Linked DNA regions of Homo sapiens. The protein of the gene in region 4 interacts with the protein of the main gene of each other region in a pairwise test. Each region holds a gene or a part of one and is shown on either strand. Other genes may lie near its edges. The genes, in order: OSTF1, SYTL4, ZSCAN5B, ZBTB7B, ZNF277, ASXL1 and P4HA3.

What was found.
Region 1: the proteins of ZBTB7B (region 4) and OSTF1 interact in a two-hybrid assay, tested with the Homo sapiens proteins (one large-scale study listed by BioGRID).
Region 2: the proteins of ZBTB7B (region 4) and SYTL4 interact in binary tests that used the Homo sapiens proteins (3 or more experiments, as listed by UniProt).
Region 3: the proteins of ZBTB7B (region 4) and ZSCAN5B interact in binary tests that used the Homo sapiens proteins (3 or more experiments, as listed by UniProt).
Region 5: the proteins of ZBTB7B (region 4) and ZNF277 interact in a two-hybrid assay, tested with the Homo sapiens proteins (one large-scale study listed by BioGRID and IntAct).
Region 6: the proteins of ZBTB7B (region 4) and ASXL1 interact in a two-hybrid assay, tested with the Homo sapiens proteins (one large-scale study listed by BioGRID).
Region 7: the proteins of ZBTB7B (region 4) and P4HA3 interact in binary tests that used the Homo sapiens proteins (3 or more experiments, as listed by UniProt).

Annotation. Positions count from the first base shown.
Region 1 is NC_000009.12:75,144,014-75,147,513, reverse strand, and holds the end of OSTF1 (osteoclast-stimulating factor 1), read right to left. Parts: intron 832-3,500; coding exon 773-831; 3' UTR 249-772; downstream 1-248.
Region 2 is NC_000023.11:100,725,622-100,729,121, forward strand, and holds part of SYTL4 (synaptotagmin-like protein 4), read right to left. Parts: intron 1-3,500. UniProt on the Homo sapiens protein: Modulates exocytosis of dense-core granules and secretion of hormones in the pancreas and the pituitary. Interacts with vesicles containing negatively charged phospholipids in a Ca(2+)-independent manner.
Region 3 is NC_000019.10:56,194,984-56,198,955, forward strand, and holds the start of ZSCAN5B (zinc finger and SCAN domain-containing protein 5B), read right to left. Parts: upstream 2,801-3,972; 5' UTR 2,751-2,800; intron 1-2,750. UniProt on the Homo sapiens protein: May be involved in transcriptional regulation.
Region 4 is NC_000001.11:155,005,802-155,009,301, reverse strand, and holds part of ZBTB7B (zinc finger and BTB domain-containing protein 7B), read right to left. Parts: intron 1,166-3,500; exon of another isoform or gene 1,077-1,165; coding exon of another isoform or gene 1,020-1,076; intron 709-1,019; exon of another isoform or gene 355-708; coding exon of another isoform or gene 316-354; intron 1-315. UniProt on the Homo sapiens protein: Transcription regulator that acts as a key regulator of lineage commitment of immature T-cell precursors. Exerts distinct biological functions in the mammary epithelial cells and T cells in a tissue-specific manner.
Region 5 is NC_000007.14:112,339,195-112,342,694, forward strand, and holds part of ZNF277 (zinc finger protein 277), read left to right. Parts: intron 1-648; coding exon 649-691; intron 692-1,677; coding exon 1,678-1,852; intron 1,853-1,860; exon of another isoform or gene 1,861-1,928; intron 1,929-3,366; coding exon 3,367-3,500. UniProt on the Homo sapiens protein: Probable transcription factor. Involved in modulation of cellular senescence; represses transcription of the tumor suppressor gene INK4A/ARF, perhaps acting via the Polycomb group (PcG) complex PRC1.
Region 6 is NC_000020.11:32,427,831-32,431,330, reverse strand, and holds part of ASXL1 (polycomb group protein ASXL1), read right to left. Parts: intron 3,204-3,500; coding exon 3,083-3,203; intron 3,007-3,082; coding exon 2,909-3,006; intron 1,994-2,908; coding exon 1,900-1,993; exon of another isoform or gene 1,431-1,899; coding exon 1,278-1,430; exon of another isoform or gene 189-1,277; coding exon of another isoform or gene 155-188; intron 11-154; coding exon 1-10.
Region 7 is NC_000011.10:74,273,641-74,277,140, forward strand, and holds part of P4HA3 (prolyl 4-hydroxylase subunit alpha-3 isoform 1 precursor), read right to left. Parts: coding exon 3,345-3,500; intron 1-3,344. UniProt on the Homo sapiens protein: Catalyzes the post-translational formation of 4-hydroxyproline in -Xaa-Pro-Gly- sequences in collagens and other proteins.

The DNA.
Region 1 (3,500 bases), on a different chromosome or scaffold from region 4:
ACCTTTCAAATCTTAGCGAAACTGTAATGAGTTGTTGGGTTTCTCCACTCTAAATACAACCTTGGAGATAAAAACTGGAAGTCTCACAATTATTAAATTTACCTATTTTATTAGACATGCACCTTCTCAATGATTATTGTCCTGACTTTGATCAAAGCTAACACAAGAAGTTGAACTAAAATGTGGCTCTCATTATTCTTCTGTGCTAATAAATATAAAATATAATTTAAAAAATAAAATCAGTTCTTACCTAAATATAAAAAGCTTTACTTACTTAACGACAATGAGTGATACCACAGAAACGGACAAAAGAAATAAAGTCTCTCAAAATGTTTATTTTTGTCAGAATAGCTGACAATTTTCTGTTAAGTATTTTGGTTTATTATTATAATAAGCATTTCCCCCCCTTGAAAAATCCATTCAAAATATCTCAACCATTGAGGTAAAGCATTTTAACTAAAAAAAAAAAAAAAAAAAAAATCCTAATTTGTTTTTAAAGAAAAAAAAAAATCTTAAAATTCCTTTTGCTTGATAAATAGAAATAATATCTTCTTGTTCTACTTTGGTGAACATAAATGTGCCAAGAATCCAGTCACTTACTGGCAAACCAAAGGTGGGAACAATTCATTTACACGTTCTACTCAAACACAGTGCAACACTGCCGTGTTCATATATAATTTTCTTTATAGTTACCAACACTTTTCTGGCAAAGACAAAGTTTTGGAATGGCAAAAGCAACAGAAGTTTTAGATCTCAAAGCTCCAGAAAGGAATTAATCTGAGTCTTCATCATCGAGATAGTCCTCGGCATTGCTTAATGTTCGAACTGCATCTGAAAGAAAGAGGAGGGAAAAAAGCAAAATAGGGAAATTATAAACTGCTCAGATTTTATTTTTTCATTTTCAAAGCTCTTAAATTAGAATAGAATCTTCCATCTGACCCAGGGATTGTACTTTCCCTGAGGATCTTTCTCTGCTTTTGCTTTTCAGCCTAACCATTAAGTTTCTGTTGCCACAGAGGCTGATGATGCGTTCCACAGTCATGCAGAAGTTTTGGTCCTAGGTGCCATGCATCCATTTCCAACAGAAAGGCCTAGCCACAGGCACCATGACCAACATGATACACCACCAGCAGCACTCCACTCTGACAACTGAGCTTCCAACCTCCTCTCCCAGTGACAGCCTGAGGTCTTGCCTAAAGGCAAAGTCACTAGGTAGGACGTTAACTACCGAAGGGGAAAAAGGAAAAGAAAGAATGAAAACAAAGAAGCTTCCATTTCAATGTAGAAAACACCGACAATAAAGCAAAAGGCTGAAATGGGGGGGAAAAGTTTTAAAATAGAGCTGGACCCCATCAAATGTTCAAGCAAACTTGAACAGGACTCAAAAGGAAGACATCTGATCTTTCACAGTCACCCCTTCAACTGTCTAGTCAAATTCCTATAGCAACAGATTAGCCCAAGTATAATTTTAGTGGGAAAAACAGAATGCAAACACAAGCACATTGTTGAAGTTCAATAAATATATGTCACAGCACCCAGATCTTCATGATCTCTAAGTATCACATCTCTGAAGCTTATTATACATATGACCGGTTCCAAGTATGGGGCAGGAAGTGTAAGGGATGGACCTAGAACCCTAGTCATGTCATAAAGCAAGCATCCTAACAAAGACAGCATCACGTGAAAGGGTCTGAGATTCAACTTAAAGAGGCCTCCACTAGCCAAAGATGGGCTATTGATAAAGCTACTAATTGGAATGGATTAAAGCACATTAAATATTTCAAGGCACACCAAAAAGAACTCATCTGTCACCCTTTGGAGGATGACAGAGACCAGCTTATTATTTTAAAACCTCTTAAATAAAGGTCAAAAATCAAGCATTTATCCTGCCCTTGCTACATTAACTGTTCCTCTGCGTAACAAAACAATTGATGAGGGAAAACTTTTCCTAATAGAATGTTCCAGCTAATAACTCAAAAAGAAGTGATTTAATTAGAATATCATCATTTTGTGCCGTTTAGTGAAGTAACAGATCTAGGCAACGATCATCAATGGATGTCACATCACAGGAAGAGTGACAACCAGGTATCATGTGCCCCTGATAAAAGAACACAATATTCTATATGATTTATTATTCCTTCTACTACCAAGAAAGATACATGATTAGGTAGGTAGGTAGATAGGTAGGTAGGTGAAGAGATGGATAGATTGAACCTAAATTGGATCAAACCTCTGGCTAGCTAGCTAGATTTGATACATAGCTAGGTAGGTAGGTAAGTAGGTAGGTAGGTAAGTAGATGGATAGAACCTAAATTAGATCAAACCGATAGATAGATTAGATAGATAGATAGGTAGATAGATAGATAGATAGATAGGCAGGCAGATACATGATTGATTCATGATTGATTGATTGATAGAATGAACCTAAATTGGATCAAACCTCTAAATCTAACACTAATTGACAAAAACATAAAGGACAGAGGAACATGACAAATAACACCATGGGAATGCAGTTAGCAATGTCCACAATGGGAAATTCAAGTGAGTTGACCCAGTTTCTTTAATAAATAAATTGCAAGGTTAAAAAGGGGGAAGAAGAGAGGGAAAGGAACTATTGCTTAAAAAATAAATAAAGAGACATATCTACCAATCACAAACTGACCTTATGTGAATCCTGACTTAAATAAACCATAAGTAAATAAATAAGTAAAAACAAAGATGTATGAGAAAATGGAAGTTTGGACAAGGACAAGATATTTGATGATATTAAGGAATATTAAGGAATTATTTTTTAGGTATGCTAATGCTCTTTTAAAAAAAAAAGTTTTCATGTTTACATGTTTTGGAAAATGATTATTGAGAAAAAGAAAAGAAGAAGGGATGATCAGTACAAGGGAGGTGGAAGCCGATTTATCTTGCAAGAGAGAGAAGGAAAGATAAAGCAGAACAGAGGCCAAGTCTCTTTTCTGGATCTCATTCTGTCACCCAGGCTGCAGTGCAGTGGTACAATCATGGCTCACTGCAGCCTTGACTTTCTGGACTCAAGTGATCCTCCCACCTCAGCCTCCCAAGTAGCTAAGACTACAGGCATGCAGCACCACACTCAGCTAGTTTTTAATTTTTTTTGTAAAGACGTCATCTCACTATGTTGTCCAGGCTAGTCTTGAACTCCCAGATGCAAGCAATCCTCCCTGCCTCCCAAAGTGCTGGGATTACAGGTGTGAGCCGCCACACCTGGCCATGTTTCACTGACTTCACACCAGCCTTCAAGCTACTGGAAGTCTCCAGGTTGACTCTATTCTTCTCCACTCTCCTCAAGAGGAGTTCACAAGAAGTGGGAGGAATATATTTTGTTCTCCCCCAACACACACCCAGGACCTTCAGGACTTCATGTCAACTTGGTAAAATGTAGCTTTCTAAGCTAAAGCCTGAGAGACAAATAGGAAAACTCTGTCCCCTTCTACTCCACTATCCTAAGTTTTGCCCATATTCTGTGTCCT
Region 2 (3,500 bases), on a different chromosome or scaffold from region 4:
TATGTGATACAATATTTAATATACACTTCCCCTGCCGAAATAAGTTCCAGGAGAAAAATGGCCATTGTCTACCTTCTTCTCAGCCATACCTCAAGCATCTAGCTGGGTTGATGGATGGATAGATGGATAAATCTACATTGTAGGATCCTGACTGTAGGCTCTCAGTTGGTGCAACGTAAATCCTCAGTAAATCAACACAGAGCATGGCACAACATAGGCCCTCAGTAAATCAAATCACGCTTTCTGATGAGTTTAAAGACACTGATACTAATGGTATTCTGATGCCTGAATCGATAGAGCTACAAACAAGAAGCAGTGTAGATGCCATGGAAATTTTCTACTTCTTAAAAATTACTCAAGGTCAAGTTAGGTTTAGATAGTCACAGATATGAATATGAAAGCCACAGTGGTCCATCATTTCAACTATTCTTCTGCCAGGGCCATCCAATCTCCAGCCCTCTCCCTATTTCTGTCACGGCCACCCGGAAAAAATTCCCCATACTAGATTGTCCACACTCTGTTCCTGGTCTGATGAGTGCTGCCAGACAGAATGGATACAGGGTTCTGCGACTTGAGGCAGAGACAAATTCAAGTTACCCAAGCCATTTTAAAACTTTTTTCCAGTTTTATGGAGGTATACTTGACAAAAATTGTGTCTATTTATGGTGTACAGCATGATATTTTGAAATACACATACATAACCTGGATGATATGCCCCTAAAGAACTCCTCTTTTCGTCTCTCTCAAATGCTATTCCAACCCTTCACCATTCTTGCCTTCTTTACTCTCTGGTGAACCTTTCACTCTCTTGTTGGGGGCGGAGGGGCTCTCTCAAAATCCTGTCCCTCCACAGGTACTTCCTTCTCCATAGTTTTTACCAAGAGGATTGGTGAATCCTCTTGTTTCAATGGAAGAGCCACCACTTTTTCTCTAAGGCTAGTCTTTTCTCCTCTTTCACTCTGGCACTCCCACCCTCTGACTTTCTCGGGGACCTTGCATCATCAAGCTGTATGCCATCTGCACATAAATGGGCTCATCTATCTCTTATATTTAAAGTAAAACAAAATTAAATAAAACAGCCTTTTTATCCCCTGTGCCTTACTGTCTATAAGGAACACTCTCTCCTTCCCATCATAGCCAAGCTTCTTCAATGTATATACTACATGTTTTTAATTATATAAATTTATGGGGTACACATGCAATTTTGTTACATATGCAGTGGTTAAGTCAGAGACTTTAGGGTATCTATAACCTGAATAACATACATTGTACCCATTAAGAAATTTCTCATCATCTACCCTTCTCCCACCCCTCACCCTTCTGAGTCTCCATTGTCTATCATCCCACTCTCCATGTCCATGTGTATCTACCATATTTTTTATCAGTCCTTCTCAGTCCTCACTGCCCAACCCTCTACGATCTGCCTTCTCTCCTCCTGCTGCACTGATGTTGTCATTGGCCTCCTAATTGCCAAATCTAATGAACGTGTTTTTTAAATGTTTTATAGTGGGTTTTATCTGATTACGAGAGGGGTACACATCATGAACAAAGTTATGACATATGACAGACTAGAGAGAAAAAAACTTGCACTATATAATAGGCAATGGGTAAATATAACTAATAAATATAGTGTTCTTACAAACAAATCAAATATATAACCCAAAAGATAAATGTGCAAAGGATATAAAGGAGCAAGTCTTGGAAAAATACAAATAGCTAGCACAAATGAAAAGATGCTCAGCCACACTAGTGATCAGAGAAATGCCAAGTTAAATCAGTTAGATACTATTTTTCACCTATCAGATTGGAAAAAATTAAAAGCGTCATCCATCCTCAGCAAGGGCAGGAGGAAAACCACTCGCAATGGTGAAAGGGTAAACCCTCTTAGATGTCACTCTGGTGATGCCTATTTAAATTGTTTAATGTATATGTCCTTTGACCTAACAATTCTCCTATTAGAAAGCTATCCCACAAAAATACTTGTGTATATATATATCCTTGAGCATTATGCAAGAATGTTTGTGGCAGACGTGTGGTGGCTTGGACTAGGGTGACAGGCAGAGGAGATGGAGACGTGTGGCAGAACACATGATACAGTCTGAAGATCAGGTCAGCAGGACTCCCTCATGAATTAAATTGGGTGGAGAGCAGTGATAGAAAAAGAAGAATCAAGGGTGATCTTAGGTTCTTGGTTTGAGCAACTGAATGGATGATGGTGACATTTTACTGAGACAGGGAGTGCTGAGGGAAGAGGGTGGGAATACAAGGGCAATCGGGAGTGCCGTTTTGGCCACGTTACATTTGAGAGGTCTATCTGATAGGCAAGCAGAGATGTCAAATAGGTCATTGGATATATGAGGCTGCAGCTTAGAAGAAAGGCCTGGGTAACAAACATAAATTTGGGAGTGACAACAGTCTAGACAGATGTTCTTCAAAGCCATGCAGCTGGATGAGAGCCTCTGTGAAGATTTTAGATGGAGAAAAGTCCAGGGACTGAACCCCAGGTCACTGCAATGTTCAAAGGCTGGGGAGACAAATTTAGTAGAAAAAGAAGCTGGTCAGCTTTTTGTACAAATTTGAGTTTCAAATAAGTTAACATATATTAAATGATGAGAATCACATATTTACCACCTTTTGAAGGGCCCAACTCCTTCCAAGTCTGTCTTCTAAGAGATTCTGGCCTCTTCCTTTCTGAACATTTCAAAACACTTTTAAACAGAATAGCACTTTTTTCTTTTATGTTACACAGTGGTTTCTCCAGACTGCACAGTCATCCTGGTAGAAAACTAGTTAAGTACAACACAAATAGCACTCAGCTACGGCTTTTCCATAAAGTTCCATAATCCAATAACCACCTCATACCTAAAAGGCTATGGGTAACTTGAAACCAGAAGCCTAATTTGTGCCATCCGTTATTCTTTTGAGCTGTTCACTTCCCCATTGCACAGTAACTTTCTCCAGCCTCTTATTGATCTTGCGAGAAGCCTGAAAAGCCTCAAGACATCTGACAATCCACACCCCTTCCTCCCAGTGCAGTCCCCCTTCCTACCAACAAGAAGCACAACATTTTTACATTTCCACTTTTAAACTTTAGAGATTTCCACCCAGAGACTCATACTTTTAAAAAATAGAGAGGCCAGGAGCGGTGGCTCACGCCTGTAATCCCAGCACTTTGGGAGGCCGAGGAGGGCAGATCACGAGGTCAGAAGATCGAGACCATCCTGGCTAACACGGTGAAATCCCGTCTCTACTAAAAACACAAAAAGCTAGCCGGGCATGGTGGCGGGCGCCTGTAGTTCCAGCTACTCGGGAGGCTGAGGCAGGAGAATGGCATGAACCCAGGAGGCAGAGCTTGCAGTGAGCCAAGATCGCGCCACTGTACTCTAGCCTGGGCGACACAGCGAAACTCTGCCTCAAAAAAAAAAAAAAGTAAGAGAGAGGAAGTACTTCCAACTAGGTCAAAGTTGGCATCAGGAATGCAATCTCAAAGCAAAAATCAG
Region 3 (3,972 bases), on a different chromosome or scaffold from region 4:
ATTATCACCCAAGTTCAACAGCTATGAGAACACAGCCCTGCTTTCCTAGACACAGGTGGGGGAAGCAACCTGAAGGTCTGCAGAGGGGAGAAAAAACTGGCAGGAGGGTCTCAGGAAAGGTCACTGGAAGCCTGGAGGGCGAGTACCCCACACTTCCTGGAAGGACTCTGAGCAAGTGCAGAACAGAGAGACAGCCAGGGAGACAATCGGCAGAGGCGGGAGACAACCCAGAGGAGGAGACAATATTTACACACCACACATCTCACAGGGCTCCTGTGCAAAACATAAGCAACTCAAACTCCTCCAGAGCGAGAAAACACATAACCCACTAGAAGGGCTTAAGGCGCCTGTGTGGACATCTCAGATGAAGACATGTGAATGGCCAGCAGGTCTAGGAAAAGGTGCTCGTCATCACTCATCATCAGGGACATGCAAATCCAAACCACAAGGCACCCCTCACGCCTGCTAGAGTGGCTGTTCCCAAAAAGACACATGGAACGAGTGTTGGTGAGGATTCGGGGGAAAGGGGTCCTCTGCGCCCTGTGCTGGGATGTAAATTAGAGCAGCCGATATGGGAGACAGTATAGAAGCTCCTCAGAAAATTGAAAGTCCAACAACTGCATGAGCCGGCAATCCCGCTCCGGGGCAGGTACACAGAGGAAAGGAAATCAGGACGTGGACTCCAAAACAGTGAAGCTCTGAAGTGACAGACGGTGGGAAGGTGGAAAAACTACCTACTGGGTACTATCCTCATATCCTGGGTGACAGGTTCAGTGATACCCAAAACCTCAGCATCACTCAGTACACTCACGTAACAAATCTGCACAGGCACCCACCGAACCTAAAATAAAAGTGGAATTTTTTTTTAAAGTTATCTATTTTTGTTTTTAAACTTGCAGCAGTGTCTTGCTCTGTCACCCAGGCTGGAATGCAGTGGTGCATCCTGGCTTGCTGCAGCCTTGACTTCTTGGGTCCAAGTGATCCTCCTGCCTCTGCTTCCCAAAATTCTGGGATTACGTGTGAGCCACTATACCTGGCCTACTTAAAATTATTTTTATTTTTATTTCGTTTTATTGATTTATTTTTTGAGACAGAATCTCACTCTATCCCCCAGGCTGCAGTGCAGTGGCCGATCTGGGCTCACTGCCACCTCTGCCTCCCGGGTTCAAGCGATTCTCCTGCCTCAGCCTCCCGAGTAGCTGGGATTATAGGCGTGAGCCACCCCTCTCGGCTAAATTTTGTATTTTTAGTAGAGATGGGGTCTCGCCATGTAGGCCAGGCTGGTCTCAAACTCCTGAACTCAAGTGATCCCTATGCCTCGGCCTCCCAGAGTGCTGGGATTACAGGTGTGAGCCACCGCACCTGGCCATTAAAACTTTTTTTTAAAAAAATAAAAGAAATAAAGTTAAATAGGTCTACTGCACAGCATGGTGACTATAGTTCACAGCAATGTACCGTATACTTGGAAATTGCTAAGGGAGTCGATTTCAAGTGTTGTCCAAAAATGATAAGACAGTGAGGTAGAGCCTATGGCAGTTTGCTCGATTTAGCCGTTGCACAATGCGTACACACCTTGACACACTATGCTGTGCACCGGACATATACACCATTATATATTTATATTTCTCAATTTGAAAGTAAATTAGGCCTGGTGCGATGGCTCACTCCTGTCACCCCAGTGCTCTGGGAGGCGGAGGTGGCAGGATCACTTCAGCCCAGCAGTGAACCGCGATTGTGCCACTGTGCTCCAGCCTGGGAGACACATCCAGCGGCCATCTCGTTTTGTTTATTTATTAAGTAAATCGATACATTTTTTAAAAGCATACAGATATGAGAAAAGGCAGCCTGAAATTCTGGGAATTAAAGAGGTTTTCCCGCCAGGTTCCCTAAGCGCCCCTGCTCAGAAAGCGGAGATCGAGGCTGAGGCGGGCAGATTGCTTGAGCCGAGGAGTTCGAGACCAGACTGGGCAAAGCAGCGAGACCACGTCTCTATAGTAAATAAAAAAATGCACTCGGGCGGTGTGGTGGTGTGCTCCTGCAGCCCCAGCTAGGTGGAGGCCGAGGAGGGCACATAGCTTGAGCCTGGGAGTTCCAGGCCAGCCTGGGAAATGAGCGAGACCCCGTCTCTGAAAAATAAAATGAAACAAAACCTAACCATGATGAGAAAGTTAACATTATTACTTTATTTTTCTCCTTTTTTTTTTTTTGAGACGGAGTTTTGCTTTGTTACCCAGGCTGGAGTGCAATGGCGCGACCTCGGCTCACTGCAACCTCTGCCTCCTGGGTTCAAATGACTCTCCTGACTCAGTCTCCCGAATAGCGGGTATTACCCTAACCTCTGCCTCCTGGGTTCAAACGACTCTCCTGACTCAGTCTCCTGAATAGCGGGTATTACGGGCGCCCGCCACCACGCCCGGCTAATTTTTGTATTTTTGTTAGAGTCGGGGTTTCACCATGTTGGTCAGACTGGTCTTGAACTCCTGATCCCGTGATCTGCCCACCTCGGCCTCCAGAGTAGCTGGGATTACAGGCGTGCGCCACTGGGCCCGACCGAGAAAGTTAATATTATTCCTAGTTTACAGAAGCACTTCATCGCCAGTCAGAGTTAATCATGGGGTGCAAAGGAGACCCGCTGCCTTCACAAAGTCTCCGAGAAAATAAATGCATGAGAAAATAAACCCAAACTTTCTGAAACCAACCCCCCGCATGCCAGCTCCGAAACCCCACAGCCATCGCCGCTGGACACTCACCTCCTTCCCGGCTTCTGCCTCCGACCTTCTCGGTCTGGGATGCGCTCTCCAACCGGCCTGGAGCTGAACTGCGTCTATTTATGGAGAAGCGGGACTCCAGGCCGCGTTTCCGGTTCCCTGCGCCGCGCCGTGATTGGTTTAGGGCCACAGAGTCCATTTTCGTAATCGGCGTTGATTACATTTCCCACTGAAACCCCACCCACAGGAAATTAATGTATTAAACGTGCCTACTGTGCAAATAATACAGGTTTTCCCGCTCTACTGAGTTGTCATATTGCTGAAGTATGTGGAGGCCTCAGAAAATATAGATCTGCAAGTTTTAACCACTTTGGGTCCCCTCATGCCACAGACAGTAATATCCTAACAAGTAAAGGACGTGTTAAGAGCTGGTTGACTTCGCTTATTAAAACAAAACGGAAAAAGAAAAAAAAAAGAAAAATTCAAAATAGAGTTGGTTGATTAATATCAAACCAGTGATTTAATCTCATTTTTAATCTCATTTGAGCGAAGCTTTCACACGCGAATTCCAAGATGTTGAAAATTGTGGACACTCGTTGATATGTAATGAATGTTTGTGATAATTTTTTACTTTTTTATTTTTTTCAAAATCTTGGAATTGGCATGTGAAAGCTTTGTTCAAACTAAACTAAATCACTGATTTGATATCAGCCTTATATAAAAGCAGTGGGAACCAGAGAAAGGCACATGGTCCCCACTCTGCATTCATTCCAGGACGGTGATAGGGTGGTTTATAGATACACTGAGGGTCCTACGGGGTTCCCTAGTTCTCAGCCCCCTCAGTTAGGGCTCTCAAGCAAGAAAAGCCTTAACGGTGGGTGTGAATTTTACTGTGTGGATCATGGAGTTAATGTGGAATGATAATTAAGTGCTAGGCAGGATTAGATTACAATTTGGGAAGTTCACACCATCAGTTGGATGACACTAATCCATTCAAGTAGTGACTCATTCATTTTAATTTCAGAGGAAACCTTCTCGTCTAACCTTTAGGACAAATTGGAGGGCTGTTAATTTTACACTGATTCTGGTTTAAATCCTTGGAAAATCTTAAGCCGCTTCACTCTGGGAACTTCAAACTTCTTGTGACTAGAACCTTCCTGATGTGTTGTTTTGAAGATGCAATAAGACTGGGTCAATAAAGTGCTCGATACAAGGTCATTTTGCCAAACAGTTGTGACAATTATTTTCTGGTGCATTTTCTCAT
Region 4 (3,500 bases):
CCCAGCCCCAGAGGACACCCCAGCCCGATCTCCGGAGCCCGGCTCTCTGCCAGCCTGTCCAGCCTCCTGGCCTGGCCCAGCAATCACTCAGTCCCTATAGGCCCCTCTTCTGCCTCTCCTGATCTGCTCGGGTCCCCTTAAACACTGAGGCCTCCCCACATTCCCGCTTCTCAAGCCCTCAGTTCCCTAAACTCTCTTGTGAAGTCTGGGCACCCTCTTCCTGACCTGTTTTTCAGTCCTCTGACCCTTGGCTAATTCTAGGCCTCCAAGCCCCCCTGGGGCCTGATCTCCCAAGCCAGAGCAGGGCCTACTCACCTGAACGCTGAGGGGCCTGGCGGCAACTCCTCCTGGCCCCTGGGGGCAGCAGGTTGGGACAGGTGGGGGAGGGCCAGGCTTGGGGGGAGGTAGGGTGGCTGTTCCCCGCTCCAGCTCCCTCCTTCAAAGGGGCCGCCCACGACCTGGCCCAGCCCCTCCCCCCTACAGCCTTAACCCTCTGGGTGCTGTCCCCCCTCCCCCCAGCTTGGAGGGAGGGGTTACCGGAGGGCTGGCGGCGTGGGAGAGGGCCCAGAGTCTCTGCCTGTGGTGCCTGAAGCCCCAGCAGAACCCACCCACTCCTGTCCTTACTCAGTCCTAAAAGAGGAAAAAGGTGAGGGGTAGGAAAGGTAGGAGCTGGGACAGTCCAGGAGGACAGAGATGAGGAGGAGCAATGGGAGAGGCTACTGGAGGTGGGACCAGGAGAAGGAAGAAGGGAGGGGAGGGGACGGAGGCAGCTGTGGCTAGAAGAGGGAGGAGGGGAACCCTGGACAGTCAGTGCCAGGGGTGACAGGTGCCTGGGTCCCAGCCCCTCAGAGTATGTGGGATGGGGACCACAAGGAAGCCCTCTAGACCCCAGCAAGCTCCTCAGTCCCCCTGGGAGCTGGCCGAATTCTCCCTACCCTGTACTGGGCTGGGGCCCTCAGGGGCTGGGCAAGGCGGCACCCCGCCCTCCCCATAGCCTCACCCCAAACCCACTCACATACCACAGTTCCTTGCCCGGGTGCCAACCCCTGCCAACCAGGCCAGGGGGCAGCACTCATGCCAGCCCCCAATAGCCAGGGGGATCAGGGGGAACAGAGCTGGCCTGAGGGGGATAGACAGATTGGGGGAGCTGTGGGCACCGAAAGAGGAAGGAGCTGGGAGGGGGCATCTGCTGGGAAGCGCCTAGCCCCACCCCTTGCGCAAGCTGCTGCCACCCTGGCCGGTTGGGTGGGACCCGCCTGGGCCTGAGGGGCAACTCAGGAGAGCTCTGAGCCCAGACATGGATGGGCCACCAAATTTCACTTAAACAACTCCTGGGGTCCCTTATTCCTGGAATGAGGGGTGCCCTAGTGACCCCCAGACACTAGGCCATCCCAAATCCTGCTAGGCTTGGGGGTACCATAGAAATGCCCCCTAAAATATCCCCTCCCCTTTCCCCCAACAGCTGCTGGCTCAATGCCGCTGGCCTGCTGCCCCTCACCAGCTCCCGGCCCGGTTGGCACCTACCCACCAGGATGCTGGCAGTCCTGCCCTCCTCTCCCTCCTACCCCCCTGCTCCCAGCGCCCCATGCCAACTGTGGGCCTGAGGTGGGGGAGGGTCACCCTGTGCCTTGGTGCCAGCCAGACGGGCCCAGGCCCCTAGGCCTTACAGATAAGGCCTAAGACCCTGTTCTCAAACCACCTCCTCAAGAGGTAGCACACTGGTCAGGGCCTACACAGAGAGAGCCTAGGAGGCAATGGACAGCCCTGTGAGTAGTTAATGAAGGCTCCACACCCCAGGGTGGGGGCCAGTGTCTCTCCCTACCACCAGGTGCCAACCTCCCGGCATTCCCCCTGCCCAAGCATTTGCTTGGGCACCAAAGTCCCTGCAATTCCTGAGAGCCCTAGTGCCTGCAGCCTGCAAGGGAGTGGGGTGGGGCTGCTCTCTGCCCTTTGATCCCCATAAAGGGAGGGAACCAGCCTAGAGGGCAGGGGGCAGGGAGGGAGTTCATGGGGCCCCTCTGTTTCACCCCTGCCAGGGGCAGCAGGGCAGGGTGTGGGCATCTTTTGGGTGGGGCCCTAAGGTGAGGACAGGTAGCATGTCTCAGCAAGGGAGATGGATGTCAATCATAGGTACACAGCATCCCATGGCAATGCGATAGCAAGAATAAAGTGGGGGGATGCAGAGGGTACCCACATTCCAACCCATCCCAGTTCTGACTTTCACCTTCATCCAGAAACACTTCCAGACTCAGCCAAATTGAGAGCTCAAGGACTACAACTCCCAGTGTGCACCACAATTGCTTTGTATGTACCTTGGGAGTTGTAGTCCCCCTTGAGAAGCTCTGGGTTCTCCTCTTCCCCAGAGCCTTGCTGATGGGTGAGAAGGGCAGATGACTTGGTCATGAATCTCCAAGGGGGCTAGGTTTAAGAAGAGGTAAAAGGCTAGGATGTCCATGGTGGAGGAAAGAGGACCCCTGCTCCCAGGCAAAGGGGGAGGAAAGGAGGAAGGAAGGAGGAGAGGATGTCTGTTGAAAGGGGCATATGGGTGGGGAGGAGTTGGGGGGACGGTGGAAACAGGAAGGAAACTGAAGCCAGAGACATGAGGTCGAAAGTAAGGGCCTGGGGGAGCCCCACTCTGAGGCCTGTCAGGGACTGGGATGGCATTTCCCCATGTCATTCTGTTGGCCTGGGAGGAAGAAGAGGATCAGTGATGTCAAAAGATAGCAAATTGACATATTTATGGGGGATCACTGTTTCATTTGCCTGCCATCAGCCCTCTTTTGCCTGGGGCACCTTCGACCCCTGAATCTGGCACAGGTATTTGCTGACTGGGAAGCTCTGAAGGCTGACCTGGTTCTGGGGAAGATAGCAGGCAAAGGAAGGGGTTTGGGGAGATCAGGGCTAGGCCTGATGGTGAATATGGTAGAGGTATATGTGGGGTTAGGCCCAGGTGTGGTCAGGGCAAGTGCTGGCAAATGAGAATGCTATCCTCCATAGCAGAACCATGGCATCTGGAGGCCTCAGGGAAGAGAGGGCTAAGATGTCCATCCCAAACTATGGGACAGGATGAAGAGGGCAGCCCTCTCTGGTCTCCCTGGGGAATTTGTTAAAGGTAGCTTTGTCCCTGTGCCAGTGAATATTAAAGATGGCAACTCAGGGGGCCAGGTGGTAGCTGGGTGCCTTTCCCTAGTAGAGGTGGAAGTCAGAAGTGGGCAGAGGACCTGCTTTGAAGCCACTTTTCCTGGGCTCCCCAGGGCTCTGGGACAGATGCTGGCAGGCCCCAGCCAAGACTCTTGCCAAGACCTAGGCCTGGCTGGGTGTGGGGGTCTTTCTTGTCCCCACCCCACCAAACACTTGATGGTGGATGACAGCAGCTCTATCCCCTTCCTCCCAGTCCCCCGGGCCCGCCTTGGCGCCTGGCCGCTTCTGTGTTGGCAAGAGTGGGGGGGAGGGGGCAGCGAGGCAACTTCAAACTGTCCGGGCAAAACGTCAAGTTTACT
Region 5 (3,500 bases), on a different chromosome or scaffold from region 4:
TATCTTACCTACACTTTTATCACACTGCAGAATGCATACATAGACTTCTACATTTTTAGAAGGCTACAAAATGGATAACATTGTAAATTATAAAAACTATAGATATAAGCTATGAGCAATTATAATGTTGTTGCTGTTCTTTGATATGGAGTCTCGCTGTGTCACCCAGGCTGGAGTGCAGTGTCACGATCTCAGCTCACTGCAACCTCTGCCTGCTAGGTTCAAGCGATTCTCGTGCCTCAGCCTTCTGAGTAGCTGGGATTACAGGCACCCACCACCACACCCAGCCAATTTTTGTATTTTTAGTAGAGACGGGGTTTTGCCATGTTGGCCAGGCTGGTCTCAAACTCCTGACCTCGGGTGATCCGCCCACCTCGGTCTCCCAAAGTGCTGGGATTATAGGCGTGAGCCACCGCGCCCGGCCCAATTATAATGGTTTAACTGATTGACATGACTTGTTTGGACTATGCTGTAAAAAAGTTGGGTATGGAGGGAAGTAGTTAGACTTGGAAGACTTCAAAAGCAGAAGATACCGAACTCAGACTGAGTTTCTAAACTACTCAAACTCCTGTGAATAAGTTGTTTATAACTTCAGCCTGAAAGATTAAATAATTCATATGCTTACAGATGTATTCATTCCTTTTTTAGGATGCACACGAATTTGATCTTCTCAAAATAAAGTCAGAACTTGGTAAGTTTGATTCAGAGGTTTTTTTCTGTGATGCTTCATTTTTTATAAACCATCCTGTAAGCTATGCCTATGTTCAGTAGCTATGATTGGAGAGTGCACCACCAAAACATGTCTCTCTATAGATGGTCTTGACAGAACTCTCTGTGAAGCAGTGATGCTCAACCATAATAGTCAAATATGGTTTTTGGTTTCATATACTCCTTCTTTCTCTTTCCTACATATATGAGTGCTTCAAGTGAAATATAAGTTAGTGGTTAATAATATATCATAAATTGGAGGGGGCTAGTGGAATATGGATTTTTAAGTCAAACTAGAGTTCAGATTCCAGCTCTGGCACTTACTGGCTATGACATTGGGCCTCAGGTCAGAAAAATGTTATGAGGAGTGAATAATGTATGGTAAATGGCTACTGCACTGCTTAGCAGTATAGCTAGGATTGTTTGTTATAGGTGTACCCAATGTATCATTCTAAGTATCACAACAATAGAACGATTTGGGGCATTAAGACATACGTAAAGTACTGACTTGCTAATAGATCTAAGACAGTAAAAAACTTACTTCTCACAGCTCAGCTCAGTCACTGCTTTCCTAGGTCCTTGGATGTGTTACTTTGCTGCTTTTATAGACATATATATACATTGTTTATATAATTAGCTTAGTAGTCAAGCATGGGCTTTGCAGCTGACAGCTATCTATGCGATGCTAGGCAGTTTCCTAATATGTAATGTAGGTATGATACTACCTATCTGATAGGGTTTTATGAAGATTAAATGTATTAATACATGGAAAATTATTAGAATAGTGCCTAGCTCATAAGCCCTGTGTAAATATGTGCTGTTATTATTTGGTATCTATTATTATGCTTTATAATTGTACTGCCTCTTCAGGTTGATTAATAAAAATAAGTGGCTCCTTTAAGAAATTATAATAGTGCAAAAAATGGGTCTGAACAGTTGTCTAATGATTCTGTATTTTGTCATTTTCAGGATTAAATTTCTATCAGCAAGTGAAACTGGTCAATTTTATTCGGAGGCAAGTTCACCAATGCAGATGTTATGGCTGCCATGTGAAGTTCAAATCCAAAGCAGACTTAAGAACTCACATGGAAGAAACTAAACACACTTCGCTGCTCCCCGATAGAAAGACGTGGGATCAACTGGAGTACGTACTGCAAAACCAAATGTGCACTTCTTACTCCAACTCTTTGATTTTGTCCCTTTATTTAATTTCTTTAAGCCTACAGAAAAAAAAGGAATACATATTTATTATAAAAAGTATACATCAGTACAGTGTGGGGAAAAATGTAAAAATATTCAAAATGCTTATTTTTAAAATAATCCCCCTCTTACAAATGAAACCAAGTATTTTTCAGTATTTGTGATATGGAGATAGATACATATGTAGAGAGATGAAGTAGATACAGATTTTTTAAATTATATTTTATTAACAAAATATTGTAAATATCTTTCAATAGCCAGTATCCATCTGTTGCATCCTTTCTAATGGTTGCTAAATATCCATTGTATGGATATAATCTATTCTGCGAGATACTTAGGTTGTTTCTTACTTTTTGCTATTATAATGATACAGTGAATCTATATGCCTACATTTTAGCACACTTATCTAATTATTTAATTAAGCTGAACTCCTAGAAATAAAATTACTATGTCAGAGTTTGCACACTGCTAGGACTTTTTGTATATATTTTGTATATTGGCACTTGAAAAAATTAAGCAGTTGGTCATCTGTTGTTGGATTCCCATGTATCCTTTGCCAGAACTTTGTGGACTGGTTCCCAAGTATCCTTTGCCAAGAACCTTCTGGACTGGTTCTCACATCGTTCTGGATAACCTCAGTCGAGGGCTCCTCTGAGAGACTGTGGGGTTCTAGCTGCCCAGAGCTCCTTCTGTTCTTAGGGAATGTTAAGTCAGTTCCCCCAGAACTTTAACCAGAAAGTTCTAGTTTTTCTCCTTCAGAAAATCCCACACTTGTGAGGGTACCCTGTTTTTATGATCCTTCTTATATAAATTAAAATTTGTAATATTCCAAAAGTAACTTCAAAATGTATTCAGAGAAGGAACCAGAATAACAAACTTTATATTCCGTAAGTGTTTCCTTTTGTGATTACCTAGAAAGAAGGAACTATTAGGCTGGAAAACAAAACACAAGGAAGAGCTTATTATTCTCAATTATTTGAATAATTTGTGTTTGAAAAATTAACTATATTTGAAGTTTGTTAACTTATAAGGAAGAACTAGGACCTTTGAGTAGAAATGAGAAAGATGTCATTTTTAGCTTCACAGGAGGTGTATCAAACAACTAGATCTACCCACTACTGGGGTCAGCTACCTTCGAAGATAGTGTGTTTTGTTATCATGATAGATGATCAAGCAGAGGCTAAGTGGCCAGCGGACAACTCCAGAGGCAACTCTGGAGGGTGGGAGGTCCACGATCTTGGTTTACCAAATCTGGATAGTAGATTTGGTAAGGTTGATGTCAGCCAGTAAAAGTCAAAGTGAAAGCAATCAGAAGTTGTCTCCAGTATAGCCTTTGCAAAATGCTATGAAATTGTTGGCAAGGATACCTGACAAAATTATAGTAAATGTGTACATTCAGCTACCTGGACACTGTATTAGCTTGGTAATTTAATACTATGTATCTGTGGTTGTTTTCAGGTATTATTTTCCAACCTATGAAAATGACACTCTCCTGTGTACACTATCTGACAGTGAAAGTGACCTGACAGCTCAGGAACAAAATGAAAATGTTCCCATCATCAGTGAAGATACATCTAAACTGTATGCTTTGA
Region 6 (3,500 bases), on a different chromosome or scaffold from region 4:
TTCATTTGACCTATGATTTTTGAAGCAAGGTATAGATTTCAGCTTTTTAAAAGAAAAAACAAATGCCAACTGATGGGAAAACTTTGGTGACAGCACCCAAGCTACCCAGGAGTTATCTGCACACAATCTGCTCAATTGTCCAGTCCATCCTAACCTGTATATTCTTTCCAGGTTACTGTCATTGCCATCAAACCCAGGAGAACACTTGGGGTTGCATCTCCTCAGACAAAACTCTGTACCGTGCTGTGTCACAGCCTGAAAAGGACACTTCCCACAGAAAATCAGGCAAGGGGCAGGTTCTGAGCTTCCCTCCAAAGCTGGAGAACAGGCTCCACAAAGCTCAACTGGAGAAATCATGAGAATTATCTAAAAGTAAATCTAGTTAGTATACTATAGAAAAATCTGCAGAAGCCTTCTGTGAATGGGCTGGAGAGGGATGATCTCCATGCAGAAATGTACTAAGGACTGTTCAAAGCCAACTGAGATGCTAATACCTCTCACAGAAGCCTCAGCAAATGTTACTTTTATCTGAAAAACTCACTAGGACTAGAGACCTGTGAGACCTTAGATTGAGCACTGCTGATGAGCTGGAAAAGCAGCAAGACAGCAAACCTAGTTCTCACATGGGCAAAGGTTTACTCTAATTCTCAGAAGCAAAAGCTTGTCTTCTTAATGGTTTCATCTACAAAAAAAACCAGCATGTGGGTCATTAAGAATTAAATCCTGAAATAGCAAAGAGCATACTAATATTGCAAATAACCCTAATGGGGGTGGGGTGGGGTGAGGGGTGGGAGGTATAGATAATAGCACTACTGAATTTGTTTGCATCCCCAAAATTCAACACATGCTTCCACTCAACATACTGACTAGGTTGTAAAAAAGGGAGCGTCTGATACAGACTACAGATGTTGGGAACAAATGTGGCAACATGCTACCGAAGAGAGAAAAGGGGTGTTGGAATTCTTCACTGAGAAGCTCAGAAGCAGTTTTCACTCACTCAAACACTTACTATGCAGTACAAGGCAGGCATAGACTAGGCCTACAGGGACATACGAGAAACAGTATGGCATCATCTCTGCCTGAAAGGAGTTCTCACAGTTTAGCAGAGAGCTACAAATGAAATAAGCAAATTACAAAGTAAAAATAAACAAAAAATAGAGGGCCACCCAAGAAGTAAAAATAAACTGGTAAAGGAATTGGAATAGAAGACATCATCTTCTCACTAGGCCTGCAGGGGCCCCCTTTACAGGCAGAGAAATAAGTGCCACGCCACTCACCTGTGGCTGGCTTCCGGAAGCCTCTCAGGAGCGGGGCAGGGTCCTGGGTGACCTCGGCCTGGCCACGAATAGCAGCGCTGCCCAGGGCCAGAGAGCCGCTGCTGCTGCTGGACGGGCTGCCGCTCTCGCCATCGGCGTGGCAGCCCGAGAACCCTGAAGGCACAGCATTCCACTGGTCAAAAGTATCACCAAGCCGCGCCCATGGCTCTCAGACAAGCTCATTTCTCCCAGCTCTCCCTGAGATGCTGCCAGCAATACTGGGATGCTTCCATCTCCCAGCCTTAGGCTGAGAGAAACCACCACTTCATGGTCTGGCTTTAAAATATCACCTTACAGGTGCCAAACTGCCATCTTTATTTGTATAGCACTACACCTTTTACAAAGCACTGGCATAATCAAATCCTCCGTTGGATCCTCACGACTGCCCTGGGAGACAAAGAGGAAGGCACACAGCAGAGCCCAGCACTAGAACCTATGGCAGGCCTCATCCATTGGCAGGGCTCTTGCCTGTGGCCCGACAGCTCTCCTAGTATCGCACTATTAGGTCAGAAACTGCTGACAGAGGGAGGCCAGGTCCCCAGGACCTGAGGAAAAAGCATCACAACCATGAGTTTACACATACCTGATGCAGATTCCACGTGGGCCCCGTTTACCTTCAGAGGAGTCAGGACAACTCGAGGCAGCATCACCCCAGTCTTTTTCTTTTGTTTGTTCGCCTGCGTTCCAAGAGAGAACAAAAGAGAGCCCAAGTCAACTGCAGAGCCACAAAAGCATTCCCTGGCGACACTATCTCTACTCACGCTCTTGTAAAATGAAGTTCGTCTTCAACCAGATCTGTCAAATAATGCTGACAAGAGCACTGGTTAATGTTACTGAGCTACGTGCTGGTCACTGTGCCAAGCATCATTCCAAGCTACAAAAATGTACTGTTATCCCCATTTTACAGGTAAGGAATTTTCCCCAAGTCTCAAGGCTAGTAAGTGCAGGGTTATCATTCAAACTGCTCACTCCCAATCTCCTGTTCTCTCTACTCTGCACTAACCACACTTCTCCCTGAATGTTCACGTGTATATTACAAGAATGAACAGAATCAGGCTAGGCATGGTGACTCACACCTGTAATCCCAGCACTTTGGGAGGCTGAGGTGGACAGACCACTTGAGGTCAGGAATTCGAGACTAGCCTGGCCAACATGGCAAAACCCTATCTCTACTAAAAATACAAATATTAGCCAGGCACGGTGGTACGTGCCTGTAATCCCAGCTACTCGGGAGGCTGAGGCAGGAGAATTGCTTGAACCCCAGAGGCAGAGGTTGCAGTAAGCGGAGATCATGCCACTGCACTCCAGCCTGAGCGACAGGCGCGACTCCATCTCAAAAAAAAAAAAAAAAAAAAAAAAAAAGAATGAACAAAATCACTCAGCCAAGGTAAAGAAAGAGAAAAAACTTACTCTGCTCAAACCTACTGTTCACTTTTCCTGCGGCCCCCTGTTAAATGCTACTAACAGCTGGAGACCAGACTTCTATTCTTCACTCTCTGAACATGTTCACAGCTCACTACAGGAGAAGGAGGGATCTTGCCTTATACCTGTCATCATTCATCCTCCCAGGCTAGGCTCTACCTCTTCCTTACCTGTGAGGAAGCTCTGTAGCTGTCCCTGGGATTGGAAAGAGGTCGACTCTGAGATTCTGTAGAACAGGATGCGTTCGAAGATGTTTCATCAAGAGATACTGGAAGAGAGGAAAATAAAGGTTAGTCCCTAGTGCCTGCTGTGGCTCCCTCACCCATCCATTAAAGGGTCCTTACCATCGTTTTCACCACTCACAGTGCTGGCTTCATTAGACCCACAGCTCTCCACATCAGCCGTGTCCTCTGGCTCCTCTCCCTCCACTGTAGCTGGATGGCGAGACCACTGCAGGGCATCCTTCTGTGACAGCAAGGTACAACTCAGGTGAACAAAACCCTACAAATTCTTAAAGCAAGGCAGTCATTCCTAAATGTGTATGCTTTTGAAAAAGAGGGATTTAGAATACTGACAAGTTCCTAACCCTTTCTAACTGACCTTTTTCTCAGCAAGTTCTTTTCATAAATATATCATTAAGAAAGTTAGATACACTTTTGCATTCAAACATTCATTAAACATTTATAGGGTGCCTCCTATAAGCTATACCATGTTAGTTCTGGGGAGGGTGGAGTGCTAAGGAGCAGGAATCAAGGCCCTGCT
Region 7 (3,500 bases), on a different chromosome or scaffold from region 4:
TGCAGATGGCACCAGAGGGACAGGCAGGATTCCACTATTAATACAAATAGAAGTAAAATGGGGGCATCAAAGATGGGATATAGTTCTGATATACACCTACTGGAGTATGTGCCCGTCTTTGCTGGCAGGTACTCAATACAATTTTTTTTTTTACTAATTTATTAGATACTTATATAAAAGAATTGTCTACTACCAAACAGAACTACTTGTCAGTAGTGAAAGTACTATATGAGGGGTTAATTGCACCTTTGAGTTCTCTGTGAAATATAGAAATTAATATATAAAATATTACAGACAATTATTCTGTAGAAATACCAAATCATAAGGCCAGAGTTCCAATTACTTGCTGAAGAGACATACTCTTTTTTTTTTGTCATGGAACAGTTTGAGATATGATTTATATTCCATAAAATTCACCCCTTGTAAGCCTACTGTTCAATGAGTTTTCCCACAATTGAAGTTTAGAACACAGAACACTTCCATCTGCTGAAAAGCTCCTTCATGCCAGTTAGGAGTCAATCCCTGCTCTCACCTCCAACCTCAGGCAACCCACTTATCTGCTTTCTCTCTATAGCATTCCATTGTGCAGATATATCAAAATTTGTTTATCCGTTCACCTGTTGACAGACATCTGGGCTGTTTCCAATTCTTGGTTTTTTTTTTGTTTTTTTTTTTTTGTTTTTGAGATGGAGTCTCACTCTGTTGCCCAGGCTGGAGTGCAGTGGCGTGATCTCAGCTCACTGCAACCTCTGCCTCCCAGGTTCATGCCATTCTCCTGCCTCAGCCTCCCAAGTAGCTGGGACTACAGGCGCCTGCCACCATGCCCAGCTAATTTTTTTTTTTTTTGTATTTTTAGTAGAGACGGGGTTTCACTGTGTTAGCCAGGATGGTCTCGATCTTCTGACCTCGTGATCCGCCTGCCTTGGCCTCCCAAAGTGCTGGGATTACAGGCATGAGCCACCGTGCCCAGCCCCAATTCTTGGTTATTACAAATAAAGCTACTATAAACTTTTCTGTACAAATGTTTGTAGAGACATATTTTCTTTTTCTTTTGGGTAATATACATAGGTGTGAAATGGCTGGATCATAAGTAGGTGAATCTTAAACTTTTTAAGAAACCATCAAACTTTTTTCCAAAGTGTCTGTATAATTTTGCATTCCCACTAGCAGTGTATGAGAGCTTCAGTTCCTCCACATCCTCACCACCACTTGGTATAATCTTATTTTATTGTAGCCATCATAAGAGAGTGCAGTGCTATCTCATTGTGGTTTTAATTTGCATTTCCCTAATGATGTTGAGCATCTTTCCATATGTTTCTTAGCCATTCATTTATCCTTTTTGGAGAGGTGCCTACTCAAATAACTTTCTGTCCATTAAAAAAAATTGAATTATCTTATTACTGAGTTATAAAAGTTCTATAGATATTTTGGATACAAGTTCTTTACCAAATATATGATTTGCAAATATTTTCTCCTAGTTGGTGGCTTGTCTTTTCCTTTTCTAATGATGTTTTTTGAAAAGCAAAGAATTTTAATTTGATAAGGTCCAATTTATCAGTTGTTTTCTTCTTTTATGGATCATACTTTGGTGTCATATCTAAGAAATCTTTGCCTAACCTGTGGTCACAAAAATTTTCTCTTATGTTTTCTTCTAGAAGTTTTATAGTTTTACATTTACATCTATGACCCATTTTGTGTTAATTTTCATATATGGTGTAAGGTAAGGGTGTAAAGTCATTATTATTTTGCAGATAGATATTAAATTGTTCCAATACTGTCTATTGAAAAGATTGTATTTTCTTCATTGAATTTCCTTGGCACCTTTGTCAAAACCAATTGATCATAAATGTGTTGGTTTGTTTCTGGACTCTGTTCTGTTCCATTGACATATGTGTCTCTCCTTACACTGGTACCACACTGCCTTGATTCCTGTAGCTCTATATTAAGTTTTGAGATCAGATAGTGTATGTCCTCCAATTTGTTCTTCTTTTTCAAAATTGTTTTGGCTGCTCTAGGTTTTTTGCATTTCCATATACATTTTAGGATCAGCATGCTAATTTCTACAAAAATAAACCTCCTGGAATTTTTATAAAGCTGGGGTTCAATTTATAGATCAATTTTGGGGAGGTCATTTTAATCCTCAAAAATCACTACTGGGTATCTACCCAAAGGAAAATAAAGTATTATATTACAGAAAAAACACCTGCACCCAGATATTTATTGCAGCACTATTCACAACAGCAAAGTCATGGAACCAACCTAAATGTCCATCGATGGTTGATTTGATAAAGAAAATAAGGTATATATACATAACAGAATACTATCCAGCCATAAAAAGAATGAAATAATTTCCTCTGCAGCAACATGGATGGAGCTGGAGGCCATTATCCTAAGTGAACTAACTCAAAAGCAGAAGATAAGATATTGCATGTCCTCACTTATAAGTGGGGGCTAAACAATGGGTACACATGGACATAAAGATGGAGGTAACAAACACTGGAAACTGCAAAATGGGGGAGGGTGAAAGGGGAGTGAGAGTTCAAAAATTACGTGTCAGGTAAAACATTCAATAGTTGGGTGATGGGTACACTAGAAGTGTGGTCCCCACCATTACACATGCAATACCCATATAACAAGTATGGCTGGGTGCAGTGGCTCACTCCTGTAATGTCAGCACTTTGGGAGACTGAGGTGGGAGGATCGCTTGAGCCCAGGAGCTCAAGACAAGCCTGGGCAACATAGCAGGACCTTGTCTCTACAAAAAAAATTTTTTTAAATTAGCCAGGTGTAGTCCTAGAGCTACTTGGGAGGCTGAGATGGGGGGATCACTTAGCCCAGGAGTTCAAGACTGCAGTGAGCTATGATGGTGCCACTACACTGCAGCCTGGGCAACAGAGCAAGATGCTGCCTATAAAGAAAAAAATAAATACATAAATAAATACGTAAATAAAAAACAAGCACATGTACCCCATGAATCTAAAATTTTAAAAAAATTATTTGCTATTATCAGCAAAGATGGCCAGTTGAGATCATGAGGCTAGAAGAGTTACTGGAGGAAGGACAATCCTCACTAGGAAGTCCCTGAGTGGAGCAGTCCGATGATTCCATGACAAGCCACATTCTTCCCTCACCAGCAAATTTTAGAAGGGAGATGGTGGCAGACAAGAAAATGAGTCAGCAACAATATGCTTGAAACTAAGGCTTTCAGATATTTCTGGAAAAAGAACCTTTGTTCTAAGATTTCACTTAGTATTCCCTGAGAGCCTACAAGAGCTCTGCCTCAGAGAAATAAATAATGCCCTGGCTCCCTACCCCAGGGGATTGGTCATTGACTCCACCATTACCGTAGCATGGTCAAAGTGAGGCTCATAGTGTCCTCCGATGCCATAGTTCACCACCTGCAGATACTCTGCATAGGGAGGCCGGACATCAAGGCCTGTGAGGGCAGCAATGCGGTGGTTGAGGGTCACCAGTTTTGGGTCAACAGTGTCCTTCAGCCA